Linked DNA regions of Homo sapiens: region 2 is linked to region 1. A link means that fine-mapping ties the variant in region 1 to the expression of a gene that starts in the linked region. Tissue or cell type: whole blood. Region 1 holds a variant in brackets; the other region holds the start of a gene. All regions are shown on one strand. Distances are between the middles of the regions.

Evidence for each region. PIP is the estimated chance that this variant, and not a neighbour inherited with it, causes the effect.
Region 2: SF3A2 starts here. The variant in region 1 is fine-mapped to the expression of SF3A2 in whole blood (TOPMed, PIP 0.98).

What each region holds. Positions count from the first base shown.
Region 1 is chr19:2,307,563-2,310,315 of GRCh38, forward strand. LINGO3 (leucine rich repeat and Ig domain containing 3) reads right to left here and starts at 592. Exons shown (of 2, transcript NM_001101391.3): 1 at 514-592. The variant C/T (reference allele first, on the strand shown) is at 1,181.
Region 2 is chr19:2,235,537-2,238,036 of GRCh38, forward strand. It overlaps SF3A2 (splicing factor 3a subunit 2), which reads left to right and starts at 1,288. Exons shown (of 9, transcript NM_007165.5): 1 at 1,288-1,365. It overlaps PLEKHJ1 (pleckstrin homology domain containing J1), which reads right to left and starts at 793. Exons shown (of 6, transcript NM_018049.3): 1 at 619-793; 2 at 387-454; 3 at 226-292. The coding sequence starts at 712. MIR6789 (microRNA 6789) reads right to left here and starts at 390; the gene lies at 293-390. RefSeq lists enhancers at 1-208, 817-1,425, 1,004-1,053 and silencers at 234-863, 1,474-1,573.

The sequences.
Region 1 (2,753 bases):
CTCCCCGCCAGGCCGGGCCGTCAGCTCCAGCGATGGAGCAGGCTCCGGTGTGGACCCCAGATACCCTTTGCGTCTTCCAGCTCCGCACCCCCAGGCTGGACCAGACCCGGCTCGGGGGAGACAGGGCAGGAAGGCGCGGGCTGCAGGCTCTATTCGGACGTTCCCCACACCCCAGACCCAACCAGTGCCCCCTTCATCTCCTCCTGGAGAGGAGCGCATCCTCCCAGCGTCCCCAGTGCCCCGGGGAGATGCCCACCCGATTCCCCGCTCCTTGGCGCCCCAGAGGAGGGGCGGGGGGCCCCAGGGTGGGGAGTTCGCCCCCAAAGTTTCCAGGGGGAGCGTCGGGGGCCTGGCAAGGAGCGATGAGCCCGGGAGGGGTGCGCGGGGCAATTTCCCCCGGCTGAGGATGGGGTCGCGGGTTGGGGGCTTTGGGCGGCAGGGTCGCAGGGTGCAGGTGAGGGGTCCCCAGGTCTGCGGGCGCGCCCCACGCCGGGCCCCGGCACGGCCACTCACCTGGGCGGCTCCGCCGCGGACACGGCGCGGGCTGCGGCGCGGGGGCCGCCCGGAGCCGACACGAGCAGCCGCCGCCGCCGCCGCCGCCGCCGCCGCCGCCTCCCGGGCTCCGCCGTGCGCGCCGCCGCCGCGCGCAACCGCCCGCCGGTCTCCTCGGCGCGCCTGGCGGGGGCGCGCGGGGGCTGCGCTGGGCCGCGTGCGCGGCGGCTGGGGCCGCAGGTGTGAGAGGCCACGTGGGCGCAGGTGCGGGGACACTGGGAGCGCGGGTGCAGAACCCCTCCGTGCGCATCCCGGGCGCTTCGTGTCCGAGGACCTCCTGTCCCCACGGCCTGGGTGAGCCTGCGGAGACGGCCGTGCCGTGCAATAAACGCAGGGGCACCCCAAGTGCAGCAGGTTGTTCCGTGTGGAACCTTCTGGAAGCTACCATCGCCTCCTCTGCCCCCCGTCCCCCACCCCTAGTCCAGGCCGCCACCATCTGCACCTGGACATCTGCCACAGCCCAGCCCAGGCCCATTCCTTATGTGGCCCTCAGAGGAAGCCCCTCAGAGGAAGCTTAGCCACTGGGCTCCAGAACCTGCCGTGATTCCCTATTGCCGTGAGGGTCCCGTCTGCACCCCACCTACCCTGGAATTTCTCTTTCTTTCGTTCTTTCTTTCTTTCTTTCTTT[C/T]TTTTTTTTTTTGAGATGGAGTCTTGCTCTGTTGCCCAGGCTGGAGTACAGCGGTGCCATCTTGGCTCACTGCAACCTCCGCCTCCTGGGTTCAAGCGATTCTCCTGCCTCAGCCTCCCAAGTAGCTGGGATTACAGGCACCCGCCACCACGCCCGGCTAATTTTTGTATTTTTATTAGAGACGGATTTTCAGCATGTTGGCCAGGCTGGTCTCAAACCCCTGACCTCGGGTGATCCACCCACCTCGGCCTCCCAAAGTGCTGGGATGACAGGTGTGAGCCACCGCCCGGCTGCCTGCACTGTTTGGTCTGCCGCACCACCTCCTTCCCCCTGGCCTGTCCTCACTCACTCTTTCCCGGGCTCCACCCCCTCAGCCTTCCTCAAACAGGCCAAGTCCCTCCAGTCCCAGGCCTTTGATCTTCGCTGTGCCCAGCTTGGACAGCCTTTCTCTCTGTCCCTCCATCGAGCAGCTTGGAGCCTCTCAGTTTGTCTAATGGGCTTGTTCCCCAATGTGCCTTCCGCCTAGCACACAGCAGCGCACACACCAAGTGCACTGCGAGTGCTCATGGAAAGTTTTTTACCTTTTTTTTTGTCTTTTTTTTTTTTTTTTTTTTTTGAAATGGAGTTTTGCTCTCGTCACCCATTCTGGAGTGCAGTGGTGCAATCTTGGCTCACTGCAACTTCCACCTCCCGGGTTCAGGCGATTCTCCTGTCTCAGTCTCCCAAGTAGCTGGGATTACAGGCGCCCATGACCATGCCTGGCTAATTTTTGTATTTTTAGGGGAGATAGAGTTTCACCATGTTGGCCAGGCTGGTCTCGAACTCCTGACCTCAGGTGATCCACCCGCCTCGGCCTCCCAAAGTGCTGGGATGACAGACGTGAGCTACTATGCCCGGCCCCTCACTGCATCTTCTAAAAGCCACATTTAGCCTCCCTGTCTCACAGATGAGCAAACCAAGGCTGGGAGATGCCATTTGTCCCAAGTGAGGGGTGAGAAGGAGGCCTCGGGAACCTGTGTGTGTAACCTTGCCCTGTCTGCCCCCTTCACCCACTCTGCAGTCCTCCCCACCAGCTGTGTATTCCCAGTGGCTTTGGCGGTGGCCTGGCACTCACGCAGCCACCTGTGACTCAAGCAGGCTCTGTTCCCAGACTGTCGCGTTGGCTGGAGGCCCAGAAACCGCATCCCTGGGAGGCTGCAGGCCAGGCCCCCCACAGGATGCTGTGGGGGGCGGGTATGGTTCAATTCCTGGCCCCAGAGAGGTCCAGAAGGACTTCATGACACCCCATGCTCTCCCCACCAAATGGCCCTGGGCTGCTGTGCTGTGTGACCCCAGTAGGGGAGGTCTCCTTCTCTCTCTGAACGTGTTTCTTTCTCTGTAAAGTGATGCTCCTGATAGCTGGCTCTCAGGGCTCTTGGAGGAAGGTGTTCATTGAGCACCTACTGTATACCAGGCCAAGGGCTGGAGGGAGGAGGAGGAGACGCTTCCAGCCTCAAGGGGGATTTCTTCGGACAGAGGGAGCAGATGCCTGAAATATGAAATCGTCACAAAGCGGCGTGGAAGAGGCAGTAGT
Region 2 (2,500 bases), 72 kb before region 1:
CTGGGAGGGACCCAAGCTTAAGTGGACTCGGCAGGTGGGAAGGGTGGTGCCCGCCAGGAGAACTTGACCTTGAGCTGCCCGTGGACAATGCACTCTTGTGTTTGAGGAGGGTGGCGCCAGGCTGGGGACACAGAGGAGACCTTGGGCGCCCGGGGAGGGGAAAGTGCGGCGCTGCGGGTGCCCCGGGCTGCGGGAAGCGCCGCTGGCTTCCCTAGCCCCACTCACTGATGGAGAAGGTGCCGGGCTCTTCCCGGACGACTCTGCAGCGCTCCAGCAGCAGGGCTCCGACGGGCTGGAGGAGACACGGGCGCCGGGACGGGGCAGTGAGCACCCGGCCTCCGAGGGGCCCAGCCTGGGACCCGCCCGCGCGCCCGGGACGCCCCTACCTCGGCCTCGTCTGTCCGAAAGTAGAAGAGGAAATTCACCACCAGCTTCACCAGCCGCCGCTTCAGCACTGCGGGCACAGCGCGCACTCAGGGGCGCAGGCAGCCCCCGCCCGGACCCCGGCCTCCCGTCCCCGGCGCCCCGACCCGGACTCCGGCCTCCGGCACCCCCGCCCAGACCCCGGCCCCGGCCTCCCGCCCCTGGCACTGTCTCGGTCTCCCGGGTCCCGCTCACCGCTGCCCTTCTTGGGGCCCCTCATGCCCAGCTCGGCCGCCATCTCGGCCGGCTGCCGGGACAGAGCCTGCAGCTCCTTCTCGTTGTACCGCATGGCTCCGCGGGGAACGGGAACCCGGGCCGCGCCCTCCCGGCCGCCGTCCCCGCTCAGGCTGGGGCCGGCGCCAAAAATGTCTCAGGGCGCAGACACGGAAGCACCCCCAGGGCTAGTGCGCCTGCGCACCTTGGGCCAGCCATGCCGCCCGCCTCCGCTGCGTGGCGCTGGCGACCCGTGGCTGCTGGCGTGGGCGGGGTACCGGTTGGTAGGAGAGACGGACCGTTGTTACATAACCATTAAACTGAAATAAACCGGACCAAGGTGGAACAGAATCAAGGCACCCCAGCGATGGCTGGCACCCCTTTCTAGAGCGGCCAGGCGCAGGCGGAGGGAGCGATAACGTCGCCCGGAGAGTGTCAGCCGCTCCCTCGCGAAAGTTGGCCCCGTGCGGCCGCAGCGGACCGAGGGTTCGTTGAGAGCGTTGTGCGCACGCGCAGTTTGCCTTCCAGGCCGCGCTTTCAGCCTCTCCCCCTCCAGCCTTTTCCTTCGCGCCTCGGGACCCTCTGACTCACGCCGCTGGGCGGGCCAGGCATGCGCACACCAGAGGGCCCGTCTCATTTGCCCCGGAAGTGCTTTCTTTGCCCGCCGTTCGCCAAACGAAGTCGTGGAGGTGGCGAAACGAGGAGGAGATAACGCGGCCTTGGGCTCTGGTGAGGAGTAGAGGCGGTTGAGGGCGGCGGCCGACGCGGACCGGGGGTTCCCTGGGGGACAGCGGACGTAGGAGAGAGGCGCTTGCGACAGGCCGCGGGCCGAGGGTGGGGCGGCGGCGTCGCTCCCCTCCCTCCTCCCGTGAGCGTCCGGCCTTGTGCATCCTGAGGCCCCGCGCTGGGCGGGCCTGGAGGGTCGGGCCCGCCAGGAACTCTATTTCCAAACTCCTGTTGGGAGGCCGCGCGCGGGGCCTCACGCCTGTAATCTCACTGCTCAGGGAGGCCTTGGCGGGAGGATCGCTTGAGGCCAGGAGTTCGAGACCAGCCTGGACAACACACCGAGACCCCCATCTCTACAAAAAATTTTAAAAAATTAGCCAGGAGTGGTGGTTGTACCTGTAGGCCCAGCTACTCGAGAGGATCGCTTGAGCTCGGAATGTCGAGGCTGCAGTGAGCCATGATCCCACCACTGCACTCCAGCCTGGGCAACATAGCGAGACCCCATCACTGCAAAAAAAAAAAAAAAAAAAATTAGCCGGGCGTGGTTGGTGACGCGCGCCTGTAGTCCCAGCTACTCTGGAGGCTGAAGCGGGAAGATCGCTTGAGTCCAGGAGGTCGAGGCTGCAGTGAGTTGTGATTGTGCCGTTGCACTCCAGCCTGGACAACAGAGCAAGACCCTGTTTGACAAAATAAAAAAGAAACAACCAAGATTCGTTGGGGTCGAATCGGGATCGCGGCTGAAATGGTTTCGGCCGCCTTCCTTGTAGCCGAGAACGCTTCTGTATGCTCATCTATACCTGTTAGTTGACTGGGGCTCTGTGATGTAATTCCTGTGAGCCTCAGTTCCCTTAAAATGGGAGTGACGGCTTCAACATCATGCCAAAGGCGACCAGAACACGTTAGCTGGCCCCATTTTGCAGGTGCACCCCGCTGTGACCGTTGTTCTTGTGTATCCTTGGACGACACCAAACAGCCAGGCGGAGCTCTGGAAAATAGGTTGTTGGCTAGGTTAAGGAGAGAACGGTGTTGCCACGAAAAACTAATTCCTTCTCAATGGTCTAGTCCCAGGTCCCAGAGGCCACTTTTCCTCAATTCTTAAGCTCATTTCCCCTGGTCGTCATCGGTTTTTTGTTTGTTT